7 linked regions of the Homo sapiens genome follow. The protein of the gene in region 3 interacts with the protein of the main gene of each other region in a biochemical or structural test. Each region holds a gene or a part of one and is shown on either strand. Other genes may lie near its edges.

What was found.
Region 1: the proteins of PTP4A2 (region 3) and WIPF2 form a complex in vitro, tested with the Homo sapiens proteins (one large-scale study listed by BioGRID).
Region 2: the proteins of PTP4A2 (region 3) and CARS1 form a complex in vitro, tested with the Homo sapiens proteins (one large-scale study listed by BioGRID).
Region 4: the proteins of PTP4A2 (region 3) and EWSR1 form a complex in vitro, tested with the Homo sapiens proteins (one large-scale study listed by BioGRID).
Region 5: the proteins of PTP4A2 (region 3) and DHX15 form a complex in vitro, tested with the Homo sapiens proteins (one large-scale study listed by BioGRID).
Region 6: the proteins of PTP4A2 (region 3) and TLK1 form a complex in vitro, tested with the Homo sapiens proteins (one large-scale study listed by BioGRID).
Region 7: the proteins of PTP4A2 (region 3) and AKAP8L form a complex in vitro, tested with the Homo sapiens proteins (one large-scale study listed by BioGRID).

What each region holds. Positions count from the first base shown.
Region 1 is NC_000017.11:40,271,304-40,274,803, forward strand, and holds part of WIPF2 (WAS/WASL-interacting protein family member 2), read left to right. Parts: intron 1-2,486; coding exon 2,487-2,696; intron 2,697-3,500. UniProt on the Homo sapiens protein: Plays an active role in the formation of cell surface protrusions downstream of activated PDGFB receptors. Plays an important role in actin-microspike formation through cooperation with WASL.
Region 2 is NC_000011.10:3,050,924-3,054,423, reverse strand, and holds part of CARS1 (cysteine--tRNA ligase, cytoplasmic), read left to right. Parts: intron 1-3,500. UniProt on the Homo sapiens protein: Catalyzes the ATP-dependent ligation of cysteine to tRNA(Cys).
Region 3 is NC_000001.11:31,907,369-31,910,868, reverse strand, and holds part of PTP4A2 (protein tyrosine phosphatase type IVA 2), read left to right. Parts: intron 1-756; coding exon 757-831; intron 832-1,908; coding exon 1,909-2,017; 3' UTR 2,018-3,500.
Region 4 is NC_000022.11:29,274,768-29,278,267, forward strand, and holds part of EWSR1 (RNA-binding protein EWS), read left to right. Parts: intron 1-3,262; coding exon 3,263-3,449; intron 3,450-3,500. UniProt on the Homo sapiens protein: Binds to ssRNA containing the consensus sequence 5'-AGGUAA-3'. Might normally function as a transcriptional repressor. EWS-fusion-proteins (EFPS) may play a role in the tumorigenic process.
Region 5 is NC_000004.12:24,529,765-24,532,554, reverse strand, and holds part of DHX15 (ATP-dependent RNA helicase DHX15), read left to right. Parts: intron 1-2,784; coding exon 2,785-2,790.
Region 6 is NC_000002.12:171,045,894-171,049,393, reverse strand, and holds part of TLK1 (serine/threonine-protein kinase tousled-like 1), read left to right. Parts: intron 1-3,031; coding exon 3,032-3,220; intron 3,221-3,500. UniProt on the Homo sapiens protein: Rapidly and transiently inhibited by phosphorylation following the generation of DNA double-stranded breaks during S-phase. This is cell cycle checkpoint and ATM-pathway dependent and appears to regulate processes involved in chromatin assembly.
Region 7 is NC_000019.10:15,405,489-15,408,988, reverse strand, and holds part of AKAP8L (A-kinase anchor protein 8-like), read left to right. Parts: intron 1-3,500. UniProt on the Homo sapiens protein: Could play a role in constitutive transport element (CTE)-mediated gene expression by association with DHX9. Increases CTE-dependent nuclear unspliced mRNA export.

The sequences.
Region 1 (3,500 bases), on a different chromosome or scaffold from region 3:
TTTGTCTGTTAAGCTGAGTAGTCTCTTCACATACTATTTAGGTCACAACTATTTATTGGGCCACGTGCTGTGGCACATGCCTATAATCCCAGCCCTTTGCTGAGGCGGGAGCATTGCTTGAGCCCAGGAGTTTGAAGCTGCACTGAGCTATGATTCCACCACTGCGCTTTAACCTGGGTGACAGAGTGAGACCCTGTCTCTTAAAAAAAAAAAAAAATTGAACATGGCCTAGATACCAAAAGATGCACTTCCAAGCCACTGGATTGTAAATCTGGTTGGGAAGATACTATGCAGAATACTGGGAGTTACGAAAAGCAGTGTGGGAGAGTAGAAAGAGCAGACATGTGCCTTGCCTATTTTTATTTGATCTGTGACCTTAAACAAATAACCTGAGTCCCAGTTTTCTCATTTGTGAAATGGGGATAATATTACATACTTCGCATGTGTGGCTATAAGACTTTTTAAAGATTTAATACACCGAAAATGCCTGGAACATAATAGATACCCAATAAATGGTAGCTGCTATTATTGTTAGTTAATACAGAGCATAGGAGTAAGACAAACACGTTAGAATCTATTATATTCCAGTCATATTGCCATTTCTTGACACATGCTTTTGACGTTACCTTCTACTTGGTGGCAAATTTTCATCTTTTAAGAGTGAATTTGATTTTTGGAATCACCAAAAAGCAGATTCAGACATAGGTATGAACATTTTCTTTTTTTTTTTTTTGAGGCAGAGTTTTGTTCTTGTTGCCCAGGCTGGAGTGCAATGGCACGATCTTGGATCACCGCAACCTCCGCCTCTTGGGTTCAAGCAATTCTCCTGCCTCAGCCTTCCGAGTAGCTGGGATTACAGGCATGCACCACCACATCTGGCTAATTTTTGTATTTTAATAGAGACTGGGTTTCTCCATGTTGATCAGGCTGGTCTCGAACTCCCGACCTCAGGTGATCCTCCCGCCTCGGCCTCCCAAAGTGCTGGGATTACAGGCGTGAGCCACCGTGCCTGGCATAGGTATGAATATTTTCATTGGTGATGGTGGTGGGGCGACCTCAGAAATGAAATGTGACCATCATATAATAGTGTTTACAGCTCTGACTGATAAACTTGCTTTGGAGGCAATTCCAAAAGAGGTGTTTGCAGTGTTTGAGCAATGAGACTGTTACTGGACATATGTAACTTCCCACAATGAATCTGCTGTATATATTTTGAAAATCGCTCATTGATATTAGAGTAAGTGACATAGCCTGTATATGCTGTGGGAGAGCAGAGGTGGAGGGACTCAGAAGAAAATGGATTGCTTTGGGAAAGCCTTGAGAAGATGGGACTTGGATTGAACCTTGAAGGGTAGGGAGGATTTGGTAGTAAGGGAAGGGGGGATATCAGAATATTGTGAGGGGAGTCACAAGAGCAAAGCATATAATTTGGTTTATTCAGCAAACATTGATTGAGCACCTGCTGTGTGCTGTACATTTGGCTGAACTTGGGAACCCAGAAGGAGGAACTGCTCTGACATCAAGGGGTACACAGTATACTGGGGAAAGAGCACACAGAATAAATAATTATAATAGTCTATTCAAGTGGTAGGTATGCACAAGCTGCAGTGGAAGTGCAGAGGAGGGCTCCTAACCTAGCCTAGCAATAAGAAGGGAAGAGGAGAAGCCAAGCTCAAGCTGATTGGTGTGGTAGGTTACTATGTAAGCAAAGGCTTTGAGACTTTATTTTTTTACTTATTTATGTATTTGAGATGGAGTCTCTCTCTGTTGCCCAGGCTGGAGTGCAGTGGCACAATCTGGGCTCACTGCAACCTCCACCTCCCAGGTTCAAGTGATTCTTGTGCCTCAGCCTCCTGAGGAGCTGGGACTACAGGCACACGCCACCACACCGGGCTAATTTTTTGTATTTTTAGTAGAGATGGAGTTTCATCATGTTGCCCAGGCTGGTCTCCAACTGCTGAGCTCAGGCAATCCTCCCGCCTCGGCCTCCCAAAGTGCTAGGATTATAGACGTGAGCCATCACACCCAGCCACAGTTTGAGACTTTATGATTTAGGCAGTGCAAAGCCTTTGAAAAAACTGGATCAAGTTTTTAGGGAGGTTGGTGAGTTGGTGTTATGCAAAATGAATTTGGAGGGGTAAGAGACAAAGCAAGGAGAACATTCGGAAGGCTTTTGCAGTAGAGAACAGGCTAAATATAAGGAAGACCTGAATTAGAATTGTGGAGGAAGGCATGGAAAAGCAGGAAAAAAATCAAGAACAGATAGGGTTCTGACTGACTGGTAGGAAATGTAAAAAGGCCATACATTTATTCTGAATGTTGGTATCTGGAAGAATGGTGATGCTGTTCAAGTAATAAGGACAAAGGGGAACCAGGCACTGTGAGCCTCTGTGGGGTGTGTTACTCTTTTAGCTCATGTGTTTCAAGTCATTCTACCCCTTGCCGTCTCCACATCCAAACCTAACTACTTTGGATTTTAATTGCAGCTCCTCCACCCCCACCACCTGTGATCCGAAATGGTGCCAGGGATGCTCCCCCTCCCCCACCACCATACCGAATGCATGGGTCAGAACCCCCGAGCCGAGGAAAGCCCCCACCTCCACCCTCAAGGACGCCAGCTGGGCCACCCCCTCCTCCTCCACCGCCCCTGAGGAATGGCCACAGAGATTCTATCACCACTGTCCGGTCTTTCTTGGGTGAGTAGCTAGCTATCTGTAGTCTCATGGTTCCTGCGGTGACTTCACCCACTCCAGTGCCATGGCTGCTAGATGGCCACCATAGAGTGGGAATGGCCACATGGGATCCTTTGTTCACAATAGTTCTCCTGCTGACTTCATCCTCAGAGGTATGGGCTGTGTTCATTGACTTCCTTATCTTGATATGAATTCTAAGCATGGATGCTTTGGAGTAGATTGAAGTAAAATCAGCAAGTGTTGTGCTAACTCTAAATCCACTCCAAAGATCACTTTTTGTAGCTAGCTTTTAGGTCAGAGACTCTGTATCTTCTTTAGGATTATTCAGACAGGACTTATGTATTCTCCTAGGAAGGAGTGTTCCTTTCTAGCTCTTCAAAAACAAAACACTTGATTGTTCTTGGAATTATTATTTTTTAATTATTTTTTATAGAGACTGGGTCTCTGTTGCCCAGGCCGCTGTCAAACTCCTGGTCTCAAGCAGTCCTCCAACCTTGGCCTCCCAAAGTGCTGGGATTACACATGTGAGCCATCACATCCAGCCTTTCCTTGGAATTCTTGAAAAAAAAAAAAAAAAAAAAAAAAAAAAAAAGAAAAGTCCCATGGCACATTGCCTGGAAAGAAAAAAGAAGAAAGAATGACAAAAAATATTAAAGAAAAAAGGATTGGGCGTGGTGGCTCATGCCTGTAATCCCAGCACTTTGGGAGGCCAAGGTGGGAGGATTGCTTTTAGCCCAGGAACTCAAGACCAGCCTGGGCAACATGGTGGAACTTCATCTCTCTAAAAAATACAAAAATTAGCTGGGT
Region 2 (3,500 bases), on a different chromosome or scaffold from region 3:
GAGCCTTAGGCAGTACCCTTGGGGTGGAGATTAAGCCATTTCCAGTGTGGGTGCTCTGGGTGGCAATATTGCTGTCTGATCACCCCACAGGCTCATTGTGAGGGATGTTGGATGCCCCTAATAATGAATAACCTCCCTCCCAGTAAGGAGGAAGATGGAGATGCTGTTCTTGGGGGTGAGAGAGGATGCCTGGGGGCCACCTTTGTGAACGAGTTGCAGCTGGACCTCCGGGGCTGGTGATCAGGACGGGGAGTGGGAGGGGAAGCCCTCACCTGTGGGAGGAGGCGCTGGTCTCTGGGAGTGGGCAGTGTTGGCTCCTAGTTGGTGAGAGCAGGGGTGCATGCCCCTCTCTCCTCCCCACGATTCATGTCTGGGGGCTTTTTCCGGTCCCCTTTCTGAACACTTCTTGGGCAGGGAGTGGATCACTGGGAAGGACCCAAGAGGAGCAGCTGTAGAGGGTGGGACCAGGGGAACATTTGCAGAAAGGGAGTAACCTGCAGGGTGAGATGTTGCCTGGACACCCACAAGATGAGGACCCTGGTGGGACCTTTGAAGTAGCAGGGTCAGAGGGCAAAGGGTCAGGGTGAGTGAGGGGTGCAGACCCCCACCAAACCGGGGCACTTATTAGGAGCTCAGACCTGCTGTAAAGGGGTCTGCATTTTAGCAAGCTTTCCACCCATGGGGAAGCTGGTTTAAACCTCACTTGCTGGGCCCACCCCAGAGATTCTGATTTGGCAGGTCTCTGGTGAGCCCAAGAATGTGACTTCTCTGGATCCCCCAGGTTCTGCTGCTGAAGGCACACCAGGGCCATGCCTGGAGTGGACCTGGGAGAGCCTCAAGGGAACGCAGGAAGAGAAACAGGGCAGCCGGGAGAGGTTTAAATGCTTACAGGAGGCCAGGCATGGTGGCTCACGTCTGTAATCCCAGCACTTTGGGAGGCCGAGGTGGGTGGATCACCTGAGGTCAGGAGTTCTAGACCAGCCTGGCCAATATGTAGAAACCCCGTCTCTACTAAAAATACAAAAATTAGCTGGGCATGGTGGCGGGCACCTGTAATCCCAGCTACTCGGGAGGCTGAGGCAGGAGAATCGCTTGAACCCGGGAGGCAGAGTTTGCAGTGAGCCGAGATCATGCCACTGCACTCCAGCCTGGGTGACGAGCGAGACTCCGTCTCAAAAAATAAAATAAAATAAAATAAAATAAAAATAAATAAAAAATAAATGCTGATAGGAAAGAGCCAGAGAGAGGGAGAGGTCGCACTGCCACAGTTGTTTGACGTGTCAGGGTTGTTGTTCATTTGGTGTGGCTTTGTTTTGGTATCTGTGCTGAGCAATTGCTTGGTACTTGCATGTGATTTCAATAAATGTTCTGTAGAGACTCCACCTTTGTAGCCGGTGACAACCACCATCCACCTTTGGGACATTCCCATGTCCCTCAATGTGTTGATGAACTGAACTGCAAGGTCATCCGGTGGTGGACATTCCTTCTCATGGGGGCAGAGCAGGAGTTTCGGCACGGAGCGTGCAGGCTCTACGATGAGGGCCAGTGTCGAGGAACAGGTCCCTGGGAGGTTTTCAGTCTGCTCAGAAGTGTTCTCATCTGATCTCAGCATCAGACTGATCCACAGCCTGGCTCAAACCCATGACCACTTGAAAGCTGACCTATTTTTATTTGTTTCCTCGAGACACACTTAAATGCAGCTACCACGATTACCCAAATGACTGTCTGCGTCCATCTCATGGAAGCCTGTCATTCTCCTGTGCTTCCCTGGGCACCAGCACCTTTCTGCTCTGAGAAGATCCTTCCCAAGCATGGTCTTGGTTCCCTTTTGATGAGCCGTCTAGCCTGCTCTAGACGGTACATTTAAGAATTATGTGATCCAAGATCAAGGCAGATTTGGTAATAAACTTTTAAAATAATAAAATTAATTAAATAAAAATGGGTGTGTGAGCCCTAGGAAAACTCCAGGAAATTCTCTGTGTGTAGCATGCGGCTATTACAATAACATTAATAATACCAGAGCGATTATGATAATAATGATGGCAAATGGGGCCCCTGGCTCTGTGCCAGGCAGCTTTTAAACATTTTACAAGTGTCATTTGACTTAATGGCCTGCAGCTTTACAGGGCTGATGTTATGAGCGTGTTTTACCGTGAGGAAATGCCGCCGTGTGTGTGAGTGTAGGTACTCAGCCCTGGAGGGCGTCGGGGCCGCCCCTCAGGTCTCCAGAGAGCGGATACACAGCGGCTTCAGTTCCCAGACTGCTTCCTCAGCGCTCAAAAGCCACTGCAGCCGCCGTTAGGACATTTGATGTTTTTCTCATTTTAAAAATAGCAGATGCTTACTGCAGAAAATGTGAGCAATGAAGAAAAAGAGGGAATTAAAATCACCTGTCACCCCCTCTCATCAACCATCGTCACTGTCAGTGTTCGGGCTGTTGCTGGTGGTCTCTCCATCAGAATCCATTCTGAGTGTGAGAGGCACGTGACTGTCAGCTCGCTGTCTCAGCTGGAAGCCGATGCTGTGTCACTGTTTCTCAGGGTGCTGCTGTTGTCTCTTCTTCCCTCTTGCTGTCGTGGAGTCCAACCCAGGCATGAGCAGTTGCAGAAGACCAAGGCTCAGGGAGGGGACAGGGGAGAGGAATGTGGAGGGTCAGCATTGGGGAACAGCTTTCGAACTGTGGCCTGATCTGTGAGGGGACAAGGCTCACCTTCCAGCTCTGTCCATCCCTCTGGCAAGTTCTCTAATCTTTAGTGAACTTCATTTTCTTTATCATGAAATGGGACCCCTGCTGGCAGCTGCAGAGCTGTTGGAGGGAAATATCCAGCTAAACTAGAAGTCTCCTGGCTGGAAGTTGCTCTGCAAAAGAGTTTGTAGGAGTCTGATATTTATTTAGAGTTAGTTTTCCAGGACCTCACTTTGGGGTGCTTGGAGCTGCCTCTGTGGGTCTGCCTCCGCCTCCGTCCTCCCTGATCTCATCTCCAGCTGGGAGGAGAGCGCATCTCCATGTAAGCAGCCTCCTTCTTCTCAGAGGGAAGCCCCGGCAGTGTCAGTGCTGACACTGGGCCTGTAACTGTGGGGATGGGGCAGGTGAGAGGCCCTCAAGAGCTCCCGGCACCCCCCAGGCGCCTTCAGTGGGGCCAGAGTCCACCCCTGTCTTTCTCTTTCCTTGGACTGTTGGAAGAGCTGAAGTGAAAAGTGACTTGTTCTTATGTCTCTGGTATCTTTGGGCAGCAGGGCTCCTGCTAAGCAAGCCCCTGGGGGCTCAAAGCAGCAGAGGCTGTGGCCGGTTCCCAGCACTGGTCCTTGTGCAGGTGTCTTTCTGAGAAGGGTGCATGAGGCCCAGTGCCACAGGGGAACGCCAGCCCACCACTGGTGGCATGCACTCTGTGGTGCCATTCTGCTGTCCACTCATCTGTGCCCTAGGCAACTTTAGCTGATATCTGGAATGTCACACGCTCAGTTGTAGATGCTGAAGATCGAGCAGTGAATAAGGTAGA
Region 3 (3,500 bases):
TCCTAGCTCATCAAAAGGATTTTCTTGAAAACGTCTAGCACCTTTTTAGCATTTGATAAGGAAATATTAAAATCAATTGGTAATGAAAATTCTGACACATTGGAGATAAGTAATATGTTTGGTCATTTATTTTACTGTGATAATGGCTAAAGGCCAATGAAGGATTTTTGATCATATCTAGTGATGAGAGAATTTAATATATAATGTGATGTTTTAAAGAGTAAAGATTTCTTAAGGTTTAGAATTTAGTGCTTTACTAAAAGTAGATAATCAGGCTGGGCGCTATGGTTCACGCCTGTAATCCCAGCACTTTGGGAGGCGGAGGCAGGCAGATTGCTTGAGCCTAGGAGTTCAAGAGCAGACTGGGTAACACGGAGAAACCCCGTCTCTACTAACTATTAAAAATCAAAAATTAGCTGGGCATGGTGGCGGGCACCTATAGTCCGAGCTATTTGAGGAACTGAGGCAGGAGGATCACCTGAGCTTTGGGAGGTTGAGGCTGCGGTGAGCCGTGATTGTGCCACTGCACTCTGGCCTGGGTGATAGAGCGAGACCCTGTCCCCTGCCCCGCCAAAAAAAAAAATCATAGAATTAATGATGATGAGATATATTTACTGTATTAGGCAGATACCAGCTACTTTAGTATACAGGAAAAAGAAAGCTCATGCGTTGCATTGGTAATATGCAGTTACAGGTTTTTAAAAATCCTTTCACTCCAAGACTTATGGATACTTACATACAGGTTTCTTTCTGCAGGGCACCTGTGCTGGTTGCACTTGCTTTGATTGAATGTGGAATGAAGTACGAAGATGCAGTTCAGTTTATAAGACAGTGAGTATGAAGTTTTTGTGTTCAGAAACACAGAAAGCAAGATCATGCATGAGGAAGGAATTATGGAAGGGATATTCATTTATAGTATGGGATAATTTGCTTTTTTTGGCTTGAAGTATTATTTGAAGATGTAAAAAATTTAGAGCAAGTGATAGAGACTCAGTACAGCTGGTTTCCAGATTCAAAAGTTTTCTAATTTGGACATTATAGACTGTGTCCAGTATATTGTTTTGAGTATCTAGGAATCTCAAAAATGCCCCTTTTAATAGATTCCAAATACCTTCCAAATATAATTCTCTGTTAGGAGGAGGCAAGAAGAATGTGTAGAGGAGCAGTTAATCACCTGAGACTCTTTTTTTTTTTTTTGAGATGGAGTCTCGCTCTGTTGCTCAAGCTGGAGTGCAGTGGCTCAATCTCGGCTCACTGCAACCTCTGCCTCCTGGGTTCAAGCGATTCTACTGCCTCAGCCTCTCAAGTAGCTGGGACTACAGGCACGCACCACCACGCCCAGCTAATTTTTGTATTTTTAGTAGACGGGGTTTCACCATGTTGGCCAGGATGATCTCAATCTCCTGATCTCGTGATCCGCCCACCTCGGCCTCCCAAAGTGCTGGGATTACAGGCGTGAGCCACCACGCCTGGCCTCACCTGGGACTCTTAAGTGATCTATTCAGGGACAAAATCAGGATGGTAGTGCACAGACAGGATCTTGACATTGATCTGGAATAACGAATCATGCTATTTTGTTATCCAGAATTCTTTGACAATTTTTGTCTTGCCCTTTCCCTTTCAACCCTTCCTTTAAAAAAAGAAAACGAAAGTAGAAACTATTCTGATCTTTATTAAATGGTTAATAGACTATAATGACAGTCAGCAAGAAAAATTTTTCTATTCCTTCTAGGAGGGCTTAGAAAGTTCATGTTGCAACTTAGCTCTTTAAGAATTGTTGTAGTATGGGAAATATGCTGGTTTTCAGCTGTGTGGAATTAGAAAGGCTTTAGGATGTAAATAATGCATTTCAGTGAATCAGACAGCTCTTTTTTTACATGATAAAGTTTGCCATTCTTGTATTTTCAGAAAAAGAAGGGGAGCGTTCAATTCCAAACAGCTGCTTTATTTGGAGAAATACCGACCTAAGATGCGATTACGCTTCAGAGATACCAATGGGCATTGCTGTGTTCAGTAGAAGGAAATGTAAACGAAGGCTGACTTGATTGTGCCATTTAGAGGGAACTCTTGGTACCTGGAAATGTGAATCTGGAATATTACCTGTGTCATCAAAGTAGTGATGGATTCAGTACTCCTCAACCACTCTCCTAATGATTGGAACAAAAGCAAACAAAAAAGAAATCTCTCTATAAAATGAATAAAATGTTTAAGAAAAGAGAAAGAGAAAAGGAATTAATTCAGTGAAGGATGATTTTGCTCCTAGTTTTGGAGTTTGAATTTCTGCCAGGATTGAATTATTTTGAAATCTCCTGTCTTTTTAAACTTTTTCAAAATAGGTCTCTAAGGAAAACCAGCAGAACATTAGCCTGTGCAAAACCATCTGTTTGGGGAGCACACTCTTCCATTATGCTTGGCACATAGATCTCCCTGTGGTGGGATTTTTTTTTTCCCTTTTTTTGTGGGGGAGGGTTGGTGGTATATTTTTCCCCTCTTTTTTCCTTCCTCTCCTACATCTCCCTTTTCCCCCGATCCAAGTTGTAGATGGAATAGAAGCCCTTGTTGCTGTAGATGTGCGTGCAGTCTGGCAGCCTTAAGCCCACCTGGGCACTTTTAGATAAAAAAAAAAAAAAAACAAAAAACAACACCAAAAAAACAGCAGTGATATATATATATATATATATATATATATATATATATATATATATATATATATATATATATATATATAATATAATATATATATATATATATATATTTTCCAGGTGGTTTTTAGTCTTTACTGATGAAAGGGTGTTCATGTTAGTTTCTTCAAAACCCTATCTAATACTAGGCAAAGTAGCCAAGAGCCTTTTGTTTTGTTTTTATTTTGATAAATTAGTGGAGAAATGGCATTTTAAGAGGAGTCTCTTCTCAACTTACCTGAGAGTCGAATTCTTCTCTTCCCTAACCAATGAAGCTAAGTGGTTATCCCAGAAACTTGTCTTCTAAAAGGGAGGACTCCAGGCCATCAATAAAGATGTCCAGGCAGTGAGCGTACTTTTTACACCCTGTAGAATTGTGGGCTGTAGCGTTACTCTGATTTTCTGTCTAGTATCAGAGAATGCTGGTAGCTTAAAATTTTTATTTTAGGACTTGTACTCTGAATTTTCAGGAACCGTCAAAGGAGCAGCAGCAAATTCACATATTTTCGACTTGAGAAATGCTTGTGGTATGTGTTTTCCAAACTGCCCCCTATATGTAAAGTTCAGTTTAACCACTGATTGCCTTGTTATTACTAGGTTTTTTGAGATTAAAAAAAAAAAATCCCTGGTTTAAAACCAACAATGATGCCTAGTGAGTATGTGTCCACAGGCCATAACAGGGTAGAAGAGAGACATCGTGCAACCCAATGAGTAGTGAAGGGACTGTGTTGCTTGTGAAGCGGTGTAGTAGCATTTTTGCAGATTCTTGGCTGGGTTTAGTGTACTGATCTAGAAAAGCTGTTTTTCTGCTCCTTTGTG
Region 4 (3,500 bases), on a different chromosome or scaffold from region 3:
AACTATTCTAAGAATTAGAAGAAATTGTATTCCGATACTGAGGTTGGGTGGGATACATGAAAAACCTATGATAATTTTTTTGTGTTCAGTGCTGTGTAATGTTTCAGGCTGTCTCCCCCTGCCCTTTTATTATTGCTGTTATAAAAGACTCTAATAAAGTCTTAAAGATATCAGAGCTCTTATTTTCAAACTGTCTTTAGTTCTCCAAATTATATATAGTCCAGTTAAGGGGAAAAACCTGTCTGTAATTTATCTCATTGAGTACCAGTGTCCTGATTTTGATGGGAAGTAATTCCTAACCTCTTCTAGGGTGTTTCTCAAATAGGATGGGAAATGTTTATCTAAACTTTCTAGTGGTGTTAATTGCAGCTGTGGGAAGAGCTGGAACTAAGGTTATGCAGTTTGGATTTTTTAGCATAGAATTTTGAAATTGTGAGATAAACTTCATGTATTAAAGCCATTACATTTTTTAAAACAAGCATGATGTGAAAGTTAATGTGGCCTAGATCTAGCCTTCCGAATCCTTAGATCATTTTACAGGAATGAGACGGAGTGATTTATAGGCAAATTAATGGTTCTCTAGAGCCATGTATCACATTGTCGTTGGTTGAGAAATCCCCATCATGACTGTGGGCCTAAAAAGTACAGGTCATTCTAGTTTAGAGACTAGTAGCTTTGATGAGCTGGAGATTGCACTTAGTAATAATAATGTTTGTATAAAATTCACAGTTTATAGAGTGGCCTTCTTGTCTCCCTTAATCCTCCCAAGAACTTTTGGGGTATAAAAACACCAAAATTAAGCCTGATGAGCAAACTGTGTGAACAAAACTTAGCAGGAGCCTAATTGGTAGTGCGTGGGTTCAAGCACACATGCTGCATTTTTCCTTACCTCATACTGCCTTTACACATGAAAGTTATCGGATAGTCATTGGAGGGAATACATAGAAATACACTGTTCTCTTCTAGGATTTTTAAAAATTAAACTTCAGAAGAAAGGGGTTATATAAACCTCAATTCAATGGAATTCTTAAAAACTTCTTAATTTTTACGTTGAACAAAAGTTTTGGTTTGTGTAATATTTCTTACCACCTTTTTCCTTCAAGTTGTCAGCACATAGTAGGTGTGTTTTCTTTTTTTGCCACTGGTCTTTTGTTTTTTTGTTTTTTTGTTTTTTTTTTGGTCATTAAATCATTTTGCTCTGTTGATTTTTGTTCATTTTGCTTGGCTGCTTTTGTGGGTACTACAGATTAATTAAAAGGTTATTTATTAACCCAGTGTCTATTGCTGTAATCTTTAGCATGACAAGGCCCTAACTGTTGCTGCATAGTTTTATGACATGAGTTATTGCCCTGATCACTTTTAGTTTTTTGTTTTTTTAATTGCCCTCCTTGTAAATCTTATAGACGTGTCATGTAGTGGGGTGTAATCGGTATATGAACGGTAGGGTAGATGGTATTAGATTCTAATTTAAATAAATGAATGCCTTATGTGGTTGACCTTAGGACTCTGCAAAAACTTAAGCAGTTCAGATGAACAACATGCCAACTCAAAAACTTTTATTGCTTGGGGCTTCCTGTTTTCTGGAACTATGTATACTTTCATACACATTTTAACTCAGCAGTTTTGACAAGGACATTACTATCTCTGTGTATAATTTCAGAATTTCCTTTTAATATTTGAGGTAGAGAAGAAAGAGTATTATTATATTCTGTGCTACAAATGGTGATTGTACAAAAGGAAGCTGATACTTGTTTCTGGCCAGTACATGAGGACACTTTAAGGCCCTAAATCTTAACTAAAATGGGCAGTCTTGATTCAGGATTTATTTTAAATATGGAAGCTTTTTCTTTAGTGAGATGTAGACTTTTTTTTTGGATATAAATGCCAGCACCTAGACCAAAGTTTTGTTTTGTTTTGTTTTTTTAAGATAGGGTCTCTGTTGCCTAGGCTGGATCTTACTGCAGCCTTGACCTCCCAGCCTCAAGCAGTCCACCCACCTCAGCCTCCCAAGTAGCTGGGACTGAAGGCTCACGCCACCATGCCCAGCTAAGTTTGTTTATTTTTTGTAGAGGCGAGGTCTCACTATATTGCCCAGGGTGGTCTCTAACTCCTAAACTCAAGCAGTCCTCCCACCTCAGCCTCCCAAAGTGTAAACCAAACTTTTTATTGCATGGCTTAATTGTACCCATTGACCATGAGGAAGAAGAGTCCAGCACCAGGAATGGTTGTAACACCTCCTACAGGAAAGGTACTCTAGTTAGGAGCTGCAGACTTTCGTGGTTTTGGTCATGCTCCACGCCGAAGTCCCGAAGGGAAAGGCATGGATCCTGCCTGGTCTGGCAGAGGCAGGAGCTAGGGATAGAATGCATCTTGCTTTGCAGCATACCTGTGAAACCAGGTTTTTTCTGACACCTGGTTAGTGAAATACTGAAGGGGAGGAGAGACTCTAGGGTTTACCTCCAATATTGCTGAGCAGGAAAAAGGCCTTTTGCTTGTGGTAGGTAAGTAAGAGGAATGGAGCTGAGTAACTTGATAACGAGGCAGGAATCTGCTTTATGATGTGAAAACATTACCTTTTAAATGTTTGTTTGGAGCAATATCGAAGTTTAATTTTAAATAATTTACAAAAAAAGGATAAACTGTGTTAAGCAACTATAATTTATAGCTTATTTTTATTAATCATGTGCTCAAGTAATTAAGCTTGTGCTTCACATGATGTTAGTGCTTGGGACCAAAAGAAAGTGATTAAATTAATTACTACCCAAATTACAGGTTTTAGTGCTAGAACTAGTACCTGGATCATTTTCTAATTATTTTAAAATGCTATGTCATTTGCCTTTTACCTTTTCTTCTGGGATGTTTTATTCCTGCTTGAGGGTATTTTGGGGTAAGTTTGTTTACAAACTTGTTAAGACGACCTGCTAGCAAAATCAGTACAGACTTGGCAAAAACAGACTTGTCTCCTATTCACAGCATTCAAGAGGGGGCAGAAGGAACCCTGTTTTCTGTAGCATGACATGCCATTTCTGTTAGGTGTGGTTTTAGAGCAAATGAGACAGTTACTTTACCAAAAACTAGGTACATTCAGAGAACTTAGGCTTTAAATACCAGTTTGTTGCTACTCTTGCGGAAGGGGGAATATTTAAAGGGATTCAATATCCTGATGGTTTAAAGTAAGTGGTTTACAAATTGTTCTGATAATGAGTGTCTAGGCAGATCTCTGAGGGGACCTGAAATCTGATGCAGCTCTCCTTTGTTCTAGGTTATACTACTCCAACTGCCCCCCAGGCATACAGCCAGCCTGTCCAGGGGTATGGCACTGGTGCTTATGATACCACCACTGCTACAGTCACCACCACCCAGGCCTCCTATGCAGCTCAGTCTGCATATGGCACTCAGCCTGCTTATCCAGCCTATGGGCAGCAGCCAGCAGCCACTGCACCTACAAGGTAAGGCCATGGTGTCCTTAATGCGTCAGTCTTATGTTGGAGGGAAAGAAA
Region 5 (2,790 bases), on a different chromosome or scaffold from region 3:
TAGGCACCTGTTTCTTCAGGAATGTGAATATTGATCAGTGCATTAAAGTTTCTCTGAATCTAGGGCTTAATTGGAAATACATTGTCATAACAGAGTACTAAAAGGAAGCAATTGAGCGGATCCAAAAGTACATACAGTTGGCTTTAGTCTTTATCTAAAAACTAAGCACCTCCAAATTCAAATATTCAAATACGTGGATTTCATTTACAGTCCTCTACAGAGTGATCATTGGTAATTATGACCAAGACCCTTGCGTACTGCAAAAGCCAAAAACGTCTGTTGAGTAGCAATAAAGATGAAACATAATTTAAAAGGTTTTATTTAGTTTAAGTATGCTGTGTTAACGGCTATAAGAACAGAAGTAAAACTTGTCAAGTAAATACTGTGAACAGTTATTTTAAGGTGTTTATAAAATAAGAGAAACTTTGAGAAAAATGCAAGAAAATTTTGTGGTGATAAAATTGAAAACAAATCACCTGATTTGGGATAAGTCTCTTCTATCTCTTTTCTGTTTGTTCATTCTCTCTTTGGCTGTGTCTTTTAAGCACGATGTGGCTTACCCTTAAGGCCAGATGGGCTCAGTAGCTAGAATATGAGCCTGAGGACACTCAGTTTCAGAATCAAAAATCAAAGGAGATTGGTGAGATGTCTGTATTTGAATCTAAGTAACACAGTGTTTATTGTGGCATCTTATTATATAATAGGCTTATTAGAGTTTGGTGAATGATAGGTATGAGCATTCTTTCTTGAAACTCTTAACTATATTCTTAATATTTGATATGTTGTACTGGCTTCTCTTTGACATGTTCTGTTCTTTTTTAGGGGGAGGGGATGGGGTGAGGGAGGCAATGTCTCACTCCCAGGCTGGAGTGCAGTGGTGCAATCACGGCTCACTGCAGCTTTTACCTCCCTGGGCTCTGGTGATCCTCCCACCTCAGACTCCTGAGTTCCTGGGACTACAGGCACGCACCACTATGCCTAGCTAATTTTTGCCTTTTTGTGTGTGTAGAGAGAGGGCCTCGCCACGTTGCCCAGGCTGATCTTGAACTTCTGGCTTCAAATGATCCTCCTACCTCGACCTCCCAAAGTGCTGAGATTACAGACGTGAGCCACCAGGCCTGGGTTGACATGTTCTTAAATTTGCTTTTTATATTTCAGAAAAAAACTGGCCGGGCGCTGTGGCTCACGCCTGTAATCCCAGCACTTTGGGAGGCCGAGGCGGGTGGATCACGAGGTCAAGAGATCGAGACCATCCTGGCTAACATGGTGAAACCCCGTCTCTACTAAAAATACAAAAAATTAGCCGGGCGCGGTGGCGGGTGCCTGTAGTCCCAGCTACTCGGGAGGCTGAGGCAGGAGAACGGCGTAAACCTGGGAGGCAGAGCTTGCAGTGAGCCGAGATAGCGCCACTGCACTCCAGCCTGGGCGACAGAGCGAGACTCCGTCTCAAAAAAAAAAAAAAAATTGATGAAACTATATTCAAGCATTATACTTCTTAATTATGTAGATTAAAATTTGTTACAAACAGCTAGGCACCACAGAGTGTGCTTGTAGTCCTAGCTACTAGAGAAGTTGAGTGGAGAGCAAGGAGCGTTGAAGCCAGCCCAGGCAACATAGGAAAACCCTATCTCTTTTTAAAAACAAACAAAAAATTTATTAGAAACAGCATGCATTATAGTACCTGACACCTAATAGGTGTTTAGTAAATATTTCGAATGAAATTGAGTTTCTTTTCTATTATTCATGCTCATTCTTTAAGCACAGAATATTAGAATTGGAAAGGGAGAACTGTCCATTTTGATGAGTATCACCAGTCAAGGTGTTACCAAAAAAAGAAATGAGAGGGAAGCACGTGCAAGCTCTTTTTTTTTTCCCATTTTTATTTTCCTGTCTTTGTAGGTTACCTTTTTCTTTTCCTCTTTGCCCTCTTTAGTTTTCTACCTTATTTTTTATTCTATTTCTTTATTTTCTTTTTTGAAATGGAGCCTCTCGGTCTGTCGCCCAGGCTGGAGTGCAGTGACTTGATCTCAGCTCACTGCAACCTCCGCCTCCTGGGTTCAGGCAATTCTCCTGCCTCAGCCTCCTGAGTAGCTGGGATACAGACACCCGCCACCACGCTTGTCTAATTTTTGTACTTTTAGTAGAGATGAGGTTTCACCGTGTTGGCCAGGCTGGTCTCGAACTCCTGACCTCAGGTGATCTGCCTGTCTCAGCCTCCCAAAGTGCTGGGATTACTGCACCTGGCTTTAGTTTTCTACCTTAGACATGAATGTTCTGGTAATTGTCTGCTCATAGTTGGCGCCCAGTGCTGAAGAGCCTGCTCTAGATGGTCTCAGGCAGGAAAGATCAGATAGTAAATGTTGGGCTCTGTGGACCCATGAAGTCCTTGTCAAAACTACCTAACACTGCCTGCTCTTGGAGCATAATAGGTATAGACAAATGGGCATGCCTGTGTTCTAATAAAACTTTCCTTATGGATACTGAAGTTTGAATTTTACATGCTACTCATGCTTCACGGAATGTTTTTTGTATGATATTTTTTCTTTCTAATTAAAGATAAATAAACCATTTTGGATTCACAGACCTTACAAATAGAGGCTATGAGTTGGATTTGGCCCACAGGCAGCAGTTTGCTTATCTCTGCTTTTATCAGACAGTGATAAATAAGTATAGCCATAGAATGAAAAGTAAAAGGGAGGCCTGCCTCTTCCTAATTATGTAGGTAGCTTTACAACTAGCAAGTCAGAAGCATTGTATTAATAATATACTGGGTTTTGGTTTCAGGTGGCA
Region 6 (3,500 bases), on a different chromosome or scaffold from region 3:
AAACTTCTCTTTTGCCTCAGATATAATAACTGATTTATCAGTTAAACTGAACATGTGGCTTTAGCGTTTCTGAGGTAAACTCTATTTATTATTTATTTATTTTAATTTCAACTTTTATTTTAGTTTCAGGGAATATATATGCAGGTTGTTACAGGGGTATATTGCTTGATACTGAGGTTCGGGGTACAATTGAACCCACCACTCAGGTAGTGAGCATAGTACCCAGTAGTTTTTCAATCCTTGCCCCTGTCTCTGCCTCCTTCATCTTTGTAGCCCCCAGTTTCTATCATTCTCATCTTTATGTCCATGTGTCTCCAATGTTTAGCTCCCACTTATACATGAGAACATGCGGTGTTTGGTTTTCTGTTACTTTTCAGATCAAACTTTTAAACAGAGGAATTATAGTTACCATATTTTCTTGAGTTCAGATGGTGGTAGAAAAGGATTTATTGGCTGTTTATGTGTTAAGGAGTGCTAAATATGCTACTCCGTTTTTGGTGGAAAATTTTTTTAAACCTGAAAATGGGGAGTAATGCCAGCATGAACATCAGCTTTTCCAGAGTATCCAGTTATTTGAAATAGAGGCAGAACTTACTTTCACATGGTATCACACCAACATTGCTGTTCAAACACTGCCTCCTAGGACTTGCCACAGAATGGCCTTCTCTCTCAGCAGATTTATTCAACTTTTCTTCAACATATCTGTGCTAGTTATACCACAGTGAAACAAAGGATAATGTCCTTGTGATATTAGAGAGTTTGGGTTTCAATTCTGCAGATAATGGGACTTGTTAAAGGTTTACATATAGTGTACGTGATCGGAATGATATCTACAGTGATAGTTGTAGAATAATAACTGATGGTAATGTGAAAATATTATTAGAGGATGAATGTTATTGGTAGTTAAGATGGAGGGGTATCCAGATGAAAGGTGATTAAAGCATGAACTAACATATCAACAGTAAAGTGGAAAGCAGGAGAAGATAATTTTTTAGTGTTTATGAGCAAGAGGCTCTGCTACTAAACCCAGACCGGCAATTGTCCTGCAATGAATAAAAGAGACAGTTATATAATTAATATGAATGTTCTGAAATATAAATTCTACTAGTAGTTCCAATTTCTCCTCTTAACTGTCAGAAAAGAGGCCACAGGTGCAGTGGCTCACGCCTGTAATCCCAGCACTTTGGGAGGCCGAGTTGGGAGGATCACCTGAGGTTGAGAGTTTGATACCAACCTGGCCAGCAGGGTGAAACCCTGTCTCTACTGAAAATACAAAAATTAGCCAGGCATGGTGGTGGGCGCCTGTAATCCCAGCTACTCGGGAGGCTGAGGCACGAGAATTGCTTGAACCTGGGAGGTGGAGGCTGCAGTGAGCCGAGATCATGCCACTGCACTCCAGCCTGGGCGACAGAGTGAGAGTCTGTCTCAAAAAATAATGTCAAAAAAGAAAATAATTACTTGTATGTCCTGACTTTCACTAATAAGCATTTATTGAGGACCTACTGTGTGTATATCAAGCCGTTTATAATTGGTGATATAATCCAGAGTGGTTAGAAGATGAGAAGAGAAATAAATAAAAGTAATAATATTAATCTCTAAACTGTATAGTCATCCCTGAGTAATCAGCTATTAATATCTATTCCAGTAATTCTTTACTTTCCATTAATATTTTAATCATTAGGATTATTATTGCTTATTTGCATTTATACCATCTTGATTGTGCCCTAAAATAGCCTTAAGATTTACTTATTAAAAATTGAAATTTATTCCTGCTTCTAAATGAAAACCGGATTAAAGTCTTGTTCTCACTTTGCTATTCTTGAGATTTTTCTCTACCCTTTCAATCTTCTACCTAGATTCTTCTTGATTTTTTTCACTCCTATCATATTCTGCTACTTTATCACTAAAACCATAGGGAAGGGGATGTGTGTAAGGTCAATTCTGCATTAGCAAAGTAGGAGCCCTTTAGTTGATGTCAGTGGTTGGGGAGAGGAGGGCATGAAATATTTGACTTGCTCTAAGTATTGTAACCATGTAGGATTTGAAAATTTTTTATTGGCATAGTGAGGTGACCTGAAAGAGAACATGGTTACTGTTAGAATAAGCTTAAGGTGTTGTATGATAAGTTGGTTTTAAAAAGCTTCACTGTTAACTACTTTATGCTCTGCTCAAACTGCTAAAATATCTAATCTACATTTTAATAATAGACATGGTATCTATTCGTTTTTAGAATTAGGGAGCTATTTGCAAAATTGTTTCAGTTTCTTGAATGGGAAGCATTGATTTTATTTTTGTTACTTTCCCATTTTTCAGAGCCATGCTAATTTTTCTTGCTATTTTCTTGTCTTTTTCCCCTTAAATTATCAAAAAAATTTTTCTCATAAATTTCTTATATTAAGGTTAATTTGTCTCATTTCAAAACACCAACTTCCCATTACCAATTTTTTTTAACAAAAGTAGATTTAGAAAATAACTCTCTTCACATTAAATTCATATTTGCCTTTTGTAAATTTGTTTGCAAATACTGTGGTGAGATGCATGTGTAACATATACCCCATACTTTAATAGTTTGGGGTATTGTTTTATCTCATTTCATTCAAGAAACATTTACTGAGCAAAGGTAAGTGATGATCACTACACTAGGTACTAGGGATACAACAGTATAAATACTGTATAAATAGACACCATCTGTGTTCTTAGGGAGTGATGTCATCTAACCGGACACTTTCTGATAAAGTATCTATAGGAATAATATTTATTAGAAAGAGTGAGGTGGGGAGATAGAAGATCCCATGAAATTATATATGGCAACACATCTTTCCCTAATCTAGGGGTTTAGAGAATACCTCACTTAAAAAAATTCTTTCAAATGAGACCTGAAGGATAAGTACAAATTGGTTCACAAGAGTGGAACCAAAAGGTTACGAATGTATATTTTATGGTTTTTCATGTTTTTTATGCATTTTTTCCAAGTTTAGCCTTGAAAAGTAATGGAAGGTTAATATGGTTTTATTTGTTTATTTTTACACAGGCAACAAGAATGGGTGAATCAGCAAAGGGAAGATATTGAAAGGCAAAGGAAACTTCTAGCCAAACGCAAACCTCCCACAGCTAATAATTCTCAGGCACCCTCTACCAATTCTGAACCAAAACAAAGGAAAAACAAAGCAGTCAATGGAGCAGAGAATGATCCCTTTGTTAGACCAAATTTACCACAACTGTAAGCCTCCATTTAAAATTTTTCTTTTTTAAAATTGTTGCCAGTGAGCGTGAATGTTACTAATGGATGTTATTTATAATTAATACTTAGATAGCAAAAATGATTAAGACCAGGAAGGAAGGCAGTATTGAAAATTTAGCTCTAAATTAATAGCCCCAAATATCTGAATTCTACCGTTTTAAGCAGAGATTTAACAATTCTCTTTTAAAACAGAGACCTAGGTAGCTAAGAGGTTACCAGAATTCACCCTTCTGTGTCTGAATCAGTTAGGAATCAATTA
Region 7 (3,500 bases), on a different chromosome or scaffold from region 3:
ATAGGTTAAGGTTTCTTATTCTTCTATGGCATATAAATATATAATTGTTCCAGCACCATTTGTTTAAAAAACAAAAACAAAAACAAAACCATTTTTTCTTTCTTTTTTTTTTTTTTTGAGACAGAGTCTCACTCTGTCCCCCAGGCTGGAGTGCAGTGGCGCGATCTCAGCTCACTGCAAGCTCCGCCTCCTGGGTTCATGCCATTCTCCCGCTTCAGCCTCCCGAGCAGTTGCCCGCCACCACGCCTGGCTAATCTTTTTGTATTTTCAGTAGAGACGGGGTTTCACCGTATTTGCCAGGATGTTCTCGAGCTCCTGACCTCGTGATCCTCCCGCCTCGGCCTCCCAAAGTGTTGGGATTACAGGCGTGAGCCACCGCGCCCGGCCTCTTTCTTTCTTTCTTTCTTTCTTTTTTTTTTTTTTTTGAGATGGAGTTTCGCTCTTGTTGCCCAGGCTGGAGTGCAATGGCGCGATCTCAGCTCACCACAACCTCCACCTCCCAGATTCAAGCTATTCTTGTGCCTTGGCCTCCCAAATAGCTGGTATTACAGGCATGTGCCACCACGCCTGGCTAATTTTTGTATTATTAGTAGAGACGGTTTCACCACATTGGCCAGGCTGGTCTTGAATTCCCCATCTCAGGTGATCCACCCGCCTTGGCCTCCCAAAGTGCTAGGATTACAGGTGTGAGCCACTGTGCCAGGCCTATATTTTCTCTATTGAATTGCCTTCGTACCTTTACTGAAAATCAGTTGACCATATACTGTGGGTCTATTTCTGGACTCTTGGACTCTCATTCTGTTCCATTGGTCTGTACATCTAAATTTCGTTCAGCAGCACGGTCTTTTTGTATTTTTAGTAGAGACTGGTTTCACCATGTTGGCCAGGCTGGTCTCAAACTCCCGACCTCACATGATCCACCTGCCTCGGCCTCCCAAAGTGTTGGAATTACAGGCATTAGCCACTGCGCCTCGCCCAGCAATGCAGTCTTGATTACTGGTTAATAGTAATCTTGAAATATGAGTCCTCCAGGTTTGTTCTTTTTTCCAAAATTGTTAGTTTCTTTGCTTTTGCATATAAATTTTAGAATCAGTTTATGAAGTTTTTTAAAAAATTCATGCTGAGATTTTGAGTGAGAGAGCCTTGGATCTATAGATCTATCAAATCTGTAGAATCTATAGATTAGTTTGAGAAAATTGACATCTTAACAATATCAAGTCTTCTGATTCATGAGTGCAGTATGTCACTTCACTGATGTAGTGTTTTGTAGTTTTCAACACAGATCCTACACATACTTTGTTAGATTTACGCCAAGTTTTTCATGCTTTTAGTGCTATAGGAAATGGTACTTTTAAAAACTTTCCATTCATTGCTGATATATAGAAATTTGATTGCTATTTGATTTGTAGGTTTACCTTGTAATATTTGAAATTTGACTTACAGATTGACCTTGTAATAAACCTTGCTAAGCTCACTTATTCTAGTAGCTCTTTTGTAGATTTGTTTGAGATTTTTTTACATACACAATTGTGAAAGAATAGAGATGGATTTATTTTTCCTTCTGGCTTGAATTGCAAGAACAATATAACATTTAAATAACATTTTGAAAAACAGTCAACCAAGATCCTACCATATTAATGTTTAATTTTTATCAGCTTACTGATTTTGTGTAGTTTAATAATTTATAGGTGGATAGAATTGTGGGTACTGCTCTTATTTTATTTTATTTTTTTAAGATATGATCTCACTCTGTCCCCCAGGCTGGAGCACAGTGGCACAATTTCAGCTCACTGCAACCTCCACCTCCTGGGCACAGATAGCCCTCCCACCTCAGCCTCCTGCATAATTGGGACTACAGGCATGCCCTACCATGCCCAGCTATTTTTTGTATTTTTTCTAGAGATGGGGTTTTGCTATGTTGCCCAGGCTGGTCTCAAACTCCTGGGCTCAAGCGATCTGCCTGCCCCACTTCCCAAAAGGATTACAGGTGTGAGCCACTGCGCCTGGCTGGTCCTGCTTTATTTTATGTTAGAAGCATTTCCTTGTGCCACATAAGGCATAGTAAATTCTTTTTATATGCTTACATGATATGTCACCGAGTAGGTAGGTGTAATCTGATTAACTATTACGTTAAAGTTGAGTGTTAAATTGTTTTCTATTTTTGGTCCATAAATATCACATACTGTGACCATGTCCTTTTTTCTTTTAAAAATTATGTCCTTGGGGCCAGGTGCAGTGGCTCATGCCTATAATCTCAGCACTCTGAGAGGCTGAGATGGGAGGCTTGAGCCCCCAGGAGTTTGAGACCAGCCTGGGCAACATAGTAAAACCCTATCTCTACAAAAATAGAAAAAATTAGCTGGGCATGGTGGCACATGCCTGTTGTCCCAGCCACTCCGGAGGCTGAGGCAGAAGAGTCACTTGAACCCAAGAAGTCGAGGATGCAGTGAGCTGTGATCACACCATTACACTCCAGCCTGGAGGACAGAGCAAGACTCTATCTCAAAAATATATATGTACATATATCTTATTTTTACATATATATGTATATATTTAATAATAATAAATATATAAATTTTAAGGATCTCTCTCTCTCTCTCTCTCTCTCTCTCTCTCTCTCTCTCTCCTTAAAATTTCTTTTGTCAACCATGATCTCATCCCTTCTGGGGATGGAAATGAGTTGGGGTGTTCTTTCAGAAAGGGCAGGTCTTGGGGAGTCCCTAAACGCCAGTCTAGATGAAGGCTTCCTCCTGAAGGGACCCAGCTGGGATGTCCATCAAGGAGTCTGGGTTGCTCCAGGCATAGCAAGTGGCATGTAGTGAGTGTTTGCCTGGAGGGACTCCTGAGAGTTGCCCATCGTGGGAGGCCCTGCTTGTCCTTAAAACGTAAAGTGGTGTTCACGGAGTTGATGCTGCTTCCTTTCGTTGTGCCTCCTCACTCTGTTGTGGCAGATCCTCAGCAGGTGAAGCTTGCAGTGACCACATTGTAGCCTCCCAAGCAGAGCCCTGATGGATCTGCTTTTGCCTCCATATCCTATTTTCTTTTTCTTTTCTTTCTTTTTTTTTTTGAGACAGAGTCTCGCTCGGTCGCCTAGCCTGTAGTGCAGTGGTGCAATCTTGGCTCGCTGCAACCTCCACCTCCCAGGTTCAAGTGATTCTCCTGCCTCAGCCTCCCAAGCATCTGAGACCATAGACGCGCACCACCACACCTGGCTAATTTTTGTATTTTTAGTAGAGATGAGGTTTCACCATATTGGCCAGGCTGGTCTCGAACTCCTGACCTCGTAATCCACCCACCTTGGCCTCCCAAAGTTCTGGGATTACAGGCATGAGCCACCACGCCCAACTCCTATTTTCTTTAGAATAGCTAGTGCCCACTGTCCCTGGTACAAACAGTCACTTGGCCAGGTGTACAGTAGCTGCCTGGGCTACCTGTGTGTTGTTCTATTTTTTTTTTTTTGAAATGGAGTTTCACCGTGTCGCCCAGGCTGGAGTGCAGTG